Linked DNA regions of Homo sapiens: region 1 is linked to region 2. Evidence: fine-mapped expression QTL. A gene starts in region 2. The other region holds a variant in brackets. All regions are shown on one strand. Distances are between the middles of the regions.

The links. PIP is the estimated chance that this variant, and not a neighbour inherited with it, causes the effect.
Region 1: its variant is the best candidate, but not a certain one, in a credible set for the expression of MAP3K15 in whole blood (TOPMed, PIP 0.77).

Annotation. Positions count from the first base shown.
Region 1 is chrX:19,490,383-19,494,649 of GRCh38, reverse strand. All of the region lies in intron 1 of MAP3K15 (mitogen-activated protein kinase kinase kinase 15), which reads left to right. Among named protein-coding and RNA genes, the nearest start is that of MAP3K15, 23 kb to the left of the region's middle. The variant A/G (reference allele first, on the strand shown) is at 2,055.
Region 2 is chrX:19,513,259-19,517,525 of GRCh38, reverse strand. MAP3K15 (mitogen-activated protein kinase kinase kinase 15) reads left to right here and starts at 2,018. Exons shown (of 29, transcript NM_001001671.4): 1 at 2,018-2,625. The coding sequence starts at 2,265.

The sequences.
Region 1 (4,267 bases), 23 kb after region 2:
GGTAAATCATTTGCCATCATATCACTTTGTTGACTAATGCTTTGCTTCAGAAATCAGATACTTTTAAACCACACTAGAAAATTATAGTTTTATGTATTACCCATAAAACATTTAGCAAAAATAGTATTCAAGATAGTGTTCAAAAGTTTTCAACGAACTAAAGTCCTATGCATCATCTTTCTTATTTAACACTAGCGTGTTTCAAGGTCCTTGTAATTGACCTCCTGCTTGAGGTCATTGTAACTGGTTTTTAAATTACACTTTCCTGCTAAGCATAGATTTCAACTGGAACCTTGGCTTTTTGCAAATCCTTGATGTAGTATCTCTCTCCCTCCTCCTCTCTCTCTCTCTTAAAAAGACAGAGTCTCATTATGTTGCCCAGACTGGACTTGAACTTCTAGGTTCAAGTGCTCCTCTTGCCTCAGCCTCCAGAGTAGCTGGGACTTCAGGCACACGCCACCATGCCTGGTATCACTTCTTAAAGTTTGCTAAACCAAGATAGGTAGGGTGGGTGTGTGTGCCTGCCTCAGGGTCAGAAAAGATGGTTTATATGATATGTGTTTTTTTTTTCCCTGAAGCTGGCCTGCGTCAGTAGGAACTGAAAGGTAATGGTTGCTAGGAGCACAGGGTGTATTTGGGAATGAAAATCTGAATTTTATCTCTTCCTTTTTATCTGTGATCTTTTTGCTTAAGATTTAGCCTGATATATAAATTTGTTTTGCCCCCAGGTAGCTCAGTTTTACACAGTGTGTCAGGAATGTACTAAGCCTCATGAGGGCATCGGGGAACACAGGACTTGGGGTTGGAAAAGCTGATTTTGAGCCCTGACTTGTTCATGCTGTACTTGAGCGACCTTGGGCGAGTCTGTTAACCTCTTTGCACTTCATTTTTCTACCTGCTTAGTGAAGCCAGTGCTTGCCCTGCCTGCCTGCTGGGGTTCTGAAATTCAACTGAGAAGTCTGTGGAAGTGTTTTGTAAATGGCAAAGCATGTGACCACGGTGATGATGAAAGGTTTTAGGTAACTGGTGCTCTCTTTAGGGATAAAGCCCTTTTTTCTTTGTATAGAATAAAAGTTCCAATCTGGTGTTTTATTACAATTAACAATTTATAAATCAGATGCTAAATTCGTGTTTTAGGAATTCTGAAAATAAGCCAGTTGCATACTATTTTGGTATAAATCCTCAAAGTGAACTTAGTCTACTGGCCTGAGTGACAAATGTCAGGCAAAAATTCCAACTTTAGATTCGAGGCAGTTTTCCTATTGAACATGAATTGCTCAGAATTTTTTTTTTTTTTTTTTTTGAGTAGCAGTATTAATATGTCCTGTTTTCATTGACAGTGAAAAGTCTCTCCCAATCCTTGGTAGGCCGGTGGGTCCCAGCACAGAATGTTGAGAAGGCAAAGAAGGGAGGACTTCATGTCACTTGATCAAAATGGAATCTTGGCAACAAGTTCCTCTGCCACGTTCAAGGTTGCCTGTGAAAATGGGCTGTGTGACTTCGGGACTACTGTCCCTATCCTCCCTTCTGCCCCGTTCCGCTATTCCCCTTTGTCTGTTTCTATTTGCTTCCTTGCCTTTATTAACTAATTATAACAGTCACCATGGCCTTGGAATTAATATCTATGTTGCTACTTTTTCATAACATCACTATGAAACATGTAATTTTAAAAAAAATCTTTTGAGACAGAGTTTCGCTCTTGTCATCCAGGCTGGGGTACAGTGGTGCAACCTTGGCTCACTGCAACCGCCTCCTCCCAGGTTCAAGTGATTCTCCTGCCTCAGCCTCCCGAGTAGCTGGGATTACAGGCGCCCACCCCACACCCAGCTAATTTTTTGTATTTTTAGTAGAGACGGGATTTCACCACGTTGGGTAGGCTGGTCTCAAACTACTGACCTGAGGTGATCCACCCACCTCCGCCTCCCAAAGTGCTGGGATTACAGGCGTGAGCCACCGCGCCCGGCCTGAAACATATAATTTTTAATGTAGATAAGTAAGAGTCCAGGAAGCAATCCTATAGGCAGAATGTCTAATTTACTCAGCTGCAGTGGCGC[A/G]TTATCTTGACTCTAAGCAAATGTCTTTGGGGAGTGGAATTACCCATTTGAGAGAAATTGATGAGGCTGGGTTGTAGAGTGTTTCCTCAGTATAGACGTGCATCCTTTCATTAGTAGATGACCTCTAAAGGGTAAATTTGACTCTGAGAGTCTCCTGCTAAAAAACTCTCTTGATTATTTAAAAATATTTTTAGGTGAGACATTGATACTATGGTTATTTTTTTCTTTGAGTTCTCATCTTTTAGTGATATATCCTGAAATATTGGGGGATAAAACAACGTGGTGTCTGGTGGGATTTATTTTAAAATAACACAGGGAGGGAGGGGTGGATGTTGCGGATGGTAGTAAAGATGAAACAAAGCCGGCCTTGAGTTGATCGTTGTTGAGGTGGGAGGTATGGAGATTTCATTATACTATTCTGTCTACTTTTTATGTATATTTGTAGTTCTGCATAATAAAAAGTTTTAAAGAGGCCAGGAGCAGTGGCTCACAGCTGTAATCCTAGCACTCTAAGAGGCCGAGGTGGGAGGATTGCCTGAGCCCAGGAGTTCAAGACCACCCTGGGCAACAGAGTGAGACCCCATCTCTGTTTAAAAAAAAAAAAAAAAGTAGCCAGGTGCAGTGGCTAACGCCTGTAATCCCAGCACTTTGGGAGGCTGAGGTGGGCGGATCGCTTGAGGTCAGGAGTTTGAGACCAGCCTGGCCAACGTGGTGAAACCCCATCTCTGCTAAAAATACGACAAAATTAGCCGGGCATGGTGGCACATGCCTGTAGTCCCAGCTACTCTGGAGGCCAAGGCACAAGAATAGCTTGAGCCTGGGAGGTGGAGGTTGCAGTGAGCCGAGATCGTACCCATGCATTTTTGAGACTCTGTCTCAAAAATAAATAAGTAAGTAAAAATAAAAAGTTAAAAAACCCAACCATAGGTTTCCCATTGCCTCAAGGAAGGTCCAGCCCTCCACCTCCAGGCTCGTTTTCTGGGGTATTGTGGCCCCAGGAAGTGATATGTGGGTGGCCTTCACACTTACACCCTGGCTTGCTGCTGGCCCCTTGCACTAGCTGGCTTCTGTTAATGCACCGCTCTTTCCTTCCCTTTGATCCCCCATATCCTCATCCCATTTGCCTGCCTGACTCTTACAGAGCCTCAGGTCATGGACAGTATCCCTTCCTCCAGGCATTCTGTGATTGCCCTCCGCTCAGGTGTGGATTATGTGCCCTCCTGGGGGTGCTCTGTTCACTGTTTCCCTTATTTTGGCTGCCCTCATGGTGATCCTAACCATCCCCTTCCTTCTGGTTACCCACATTGTATTGTAGTTGGTTTTTTCTTTTGAGGAAAGTGATTATGCCCTGTTGACACTTCTATCCCTGGCACCCATCAGAATCCTGCCATACAGCAGGCAATCCATAAATAAGAGAATAAAGGGCCCACTCTGGGGCTTAGTGGCACTTGGCCTCAGGTTCCCAGCGCCTCTCTACAGAGCTAGCGGTGTCTGGTGCTGATATGCTGCCTGCCTGCCTTCATGTTTCTTCACGCCCTTGTTCAACTGGCCTCTGTTGTGTCCCATCGGGATTTTGAGTGACTTTCTAGAAGTCACAGCAGTGCGAGCATGAGTTTGGACACTACATTCCTATATCTCCACTGCACATGGTAAGGAAGCTCCCATCAAACTTGGAACTCTTACATCCTCTAGAATGTTTTGAGTTTTAAAACGGTGCCCCATACTACTAAGCGTAATTTAAACATGCTCATTATTCATGTAATAAGTTGCTCCTCTGTTTTGAATAGGTCTCTATTACAGGGTGCAACTCCAGGGTGCATTTTATTTTTTTTTTTTTTTTAGTTTATGAGACAAGGTCTTACTCTGTCACTTAGGCTGGAGAGCAGTGGCATGATCACAGCTCACTGCAACCTCGACCTCCCAGTCTCCAGCCATCCACCCACCTTAGCCTCCTGAATAACTGGGACTACAGGCACGCACCACCACACCCGGCTAATTTTTTGTATTTTTTATAGAGATGGGGTTTCGCCATGTTGTCCAGGCTGGTCTTGAACTGCTGAGCTCAAGCATTCTGCCCACCTCGGCCAACTAAAGTGTTGGGATTACAGGCATGAGCCACTGCGCCCAGCCAGGGCACGTTATATGTTGTTAAGTTGATGGTAGACATGTGAGCCAGGAGCTATGACAGGACTGTTTATTGCAGCAGTGTGAAA
Region 2 (4,267 bases):
GGATTGCTGGGTGGAATGTTATTTCCATTATAAGGTCTTTGAGGAATTGCCACACTGTCTTCCACAATGGTTGAACTAATTTCCACTCCCACTAACAGTGTATAAATGTTTCTTTTCCTCCACAGCCTCGCCACCATCTGTTATTTTTTGACTTTTTAATAATAGCCATTCTGACTGGTGTGAGATGGTATCTAGTTGTGGTTTTGATTTGCATTTCTCTAATGATCAGTGATGTTGAGGCTTTTCTTTCATATGATTGTTGGCCACATGTATGTCTTCTTTTGAAGAGTGTCTGTTCATGTCCTTTGCCCACTTTTTAATGGGGCTGTTTGTTGTTTTCTTGTAAATTTAAGTTATTTATAGATGCTGGATATTAGACCTTTGTCAGATGCATAGTTTGCAAAAATTTTCTCCCATTCTGTAGGTTGTTTGTTCACTCTGTTGACACATACATGTGTATGTTCATTGCAGCACTATTCACAATAGCCAAGACATGAAATCAATCTAAATGCTCATCAATGGTAGATTGAATAAAGAAAATGTGGTACATACACACCATGGAATACTATGCAGCCATAAAAAAGAATGAGATCATGTCCTTTGCAGGAACATGGATGGAGCTGGAGGCCATTATTCTTAGCAAACAAATGCAGAAACAGAAAACCAAATGCCCCATGTTCTTACTCATAAGTGGGAGCTAAATGATGAGAACACATGGACACATGGAGGGGAACAACACACACTGTGGCCTATCAGAGGGTGAAGGGTGGGAGGAAGGAGAGGATCAGGAAAAATAACTAATGGGTACTAGCCTTAATGCCTGGGTGATGAAATAATCTATACAACACACCCCAATGACACAAGTTTACCTGTGTAACAAACCTGCACATATACCCCTGAACTTAAATGAAAAACAACAGATTGTATTCCATAAATATATACAATTATTTGTCAATTAAAAATAAAGTTTAAAAATAATATTGCAATTGAAAAAAGAAAAACCTCCAAGTCTGTGACAGCGTCCGGTGCATTCTATCTTTTAGAAAACAATGACCCAGGTGCGGTGGCTCACGCCTGTAATCCTAGCACTTGGAGAGGCTGAGGCGGGCGGGTCGCTTGAACTCGGGAATTCGACAGCAGCCTGGCCAACATAGTGAAACCCCGTCTCTACTAAAAATACAAAAAAAAAAAAAAAAAAAAAAAAATTAGCCGGACATGGTGAGGTGCGTGCCTGTAATCCCAGCTACTCTGAAGGCTGAGGTGGGAGGATCGCTTGAGCCCCGAGAAGCAGAGGTTGTAGTGAGCCTAGAGCAGAGATCGCGCCACTGCACTCCAGCCTGGGCGATAGCGACAGACTTTGTCTCAAAAAAGATAAAAAATAAGAATAATGGTATTACCCTCAGTGGTAACACTATTTTCTTTTAATATTTGTGTCCAAATTCGTGAAGTGCCTAAGATCCGAGTGAGGGCCCCTTTGAGTTCACGGCATTTTCAAAGGTCAGGCAGGCAGCGTACTTGGAGTCTATCTTCCAGACAAAATTTGTTGCTGGTGCCTCCCTGTGCCTTGTCAAGGTCACGGCGAAAGCCAGGACGAGCTCGCCTCCGGCACAGGGCTCACGGGGGGCCGTGCGCTTGGCAACCAGGGATGAAGCATCCGTTCATCCCAATGCCGGGTGAAAACTATTAATACGTCTGTATTGAGTTGGGAATAGAACATTTCCATCCAACCGATGCTTTGAAAGAGTTTTTACCCTGCTCGAATGCTTCAAGTTGTTTTGAGAAAAAAGAAATTGGAGCTCCTAATGGTGGTCAGGCTAGAGGGATGGCCAAAACAAAAAACAAAAAACAAAACAAAAAAAAAAACAACCCCAATTCCTGTTCCCGTGTTCGGCGTCTCCCGGCTGCGGGCGGGCGCTGCCTGGAGGGGGCAGCAGGGGGCACCCTCCCCGCTCCTGCCCCGCCGCCCTCCCCGGCCCCCTCCCCGCCCCTCGCTCGCCCTGACGTCCCCAGCCCCCGCCTCTTTCTCTCCGGCCTTCAAAGGGCGCTGGGGGCCTTGGGGCCTGAGCGTCAGGCTGCAGCCTAGGGGTACTGCCGTCTTCGGCCCGCCGCGGGGTCCCCGGTGCGCTCCGTTCCCTCGATTCCCGTAGCGTCCCGCGCTTCAGGAGCAGGTGCCGGGACCGCCTGCGCGGCTGCTGTAACTTGTGCCTCCTAGCGGATCGCAGCCGCTGGCCACTCGCCCAGGGGAAGGGCGCGCAGGCGGGCACATGGAGAGCGGCGGTGGGAATGCTCCGGCCGGGGCCCTCGGGGCGGCGAGCGAGTCCCCTCAGTGCCCGCCGCCGCCGGGGGTGGAGGGCGCGGCCGGGCCGGCGGAGCCCGACGGGGCGGCGGAGGGCGCGGCAGGCGGCAGCGGCGAGGGCGAGAGTGGGGGCGGGCCGCGGCGGGCTCTGCGGGCAGTATACGTGCGCAGTGAGAGCTCCCAGGGCGGCGCGGCCGGCGGCCCGGAGGCTGGGGCGCGGCAGTGCCTGCTGCGGGCCTGCGAGGCCGAGGGCGCTCACCTCACCTCCGTGCCCTTCGGGGAGCTGGACTTCGGGGAGACGGCCGTGCTCGACGCCTTCTACGACGCAGGTGAGAGCGGCTTCGTCCCCACCTCAGTCCCAGTTCACCTACCCTCACACGAGCCAGGGCACCCGCCCCGCCCCCTCGCCCTTCTCCCCCGTCCCCCTCCCCCTCGTCCCCCTCCCCTCCCCCTCGTCCCCCTCCCCTCCCCCTCGTCCCCCTCCCCTCCCCCTAGTCCCCCTCCCCTCCCCCAGTCCCCCTCGTCTCTAGTCCCCCTCCCCTTATCCCCCTCCCCTTATCCCCCTCCCCCAGTCCCCCCTCCCGCAGGCCCCCCTCCCCTTAGTCCCCTCTCCCCTTAGTCTCCCTCCCCTTAGTCCACCTCCCCTTCCCCTAGTCCCCTTCCTCTCATCCCCCTCCCCTTAGCCCCCCTCCTATCCTCTCACCCCCTGATCCGTCCAACAGGACCGTCCTGCCTTTGGGGGAGGGTAGAGTCTTTAACATTGTGCCCTTTTACAGATAAGAAAATAGAGGCCACGGGCATTTAGACTCTTTGATTCTTCAGGCATCTTAAACATCAGATAACCCAAGAAACAGCCTGTAACCCAGACCCTACCAAGCCCCCCTTCTCCCAAGTTATCCAACTTTTGCTTTCTCATTCCTGGAAGGTCTCTTACGGCCGTGGGTCCCAACGCAGGCTACATATTAGAATCACCTGGGGAGCTTTTAAAACTCTGGGTGCCCAGATCGGACCCCAGACCAATGACATAAGCACCCGAGGCCTTAGAAGTGTCATGCTTCCCAGGCGATTCCATTTTGCAGCCAGGAGTGGAAATCGGTGTCTTACGTGTGTGTGTGTTGCCTCTACTTAGAAATACCCAGTGTTCTTTTGCACACTTCAATTCTCGTCCCCAAAACACTGACGGTGGAGTGTGAGCCACCACCCTGTGACGTATATTTTATCCCATAATGCACAGCATTCACGGGTTAGGGGGCACCTTTGCTGGAGTGGGACTCTAGGTCTCTAAACTCACTATAATAAATGTGCCTGAGAATCCAGCCTTAAGAAGCGTACTTTGGATTGGCAAGAGTTTCTCTCGGTGTGGAATGAATTGTTGCTTGACGTTTTTTCCCTTACAGCACCTTTGGTGACAAACCTCTGTCACCTGGGTGACGTTCAGAAGCATTATATGTGAGACAGTAATTACCTGGGAGTCCTTGTGCCTCAGTTTCTGGTCAAAGGGAGTTAACAGTGCCTACCCTAAACCTAAAAGCTGATGAGATAGGATATGGGAAGTTGCTTTGCTGTAATAGTAAGCTAGGATGATTAGGATTCAGCCTCTGCTGGAGGCAGCGCAGATCTGTTTTTCTTGCAGAGCAAATTCTCCCCAGCTGGAAGGGCGGGGTAGGGGGGGAGTCAGGCTTGTTTAAACAAGTGGCAGCTGGACCCATTGAAAGCACTCTCCTGACATTTCTGACCACACTGAGTATACTCTTCAGCACAACATCTTTTTAGAAAAGTCGTTCAGGAGTCCACTTCACCTAGAACCACTCCGTTTTCTCAACTTGTATTCATTCTGCTCCAAAATTGGAGTTTGAACAGACTCTTCTCTGAACGGTTAAATGTTCCTTTTGCCATGAGGCACAACACTCTCCTTCCTGCTGGTGCCACCTCTGAAAGATTTGTGTGCGGTGGCTTTTGCTTTCCCTGGGG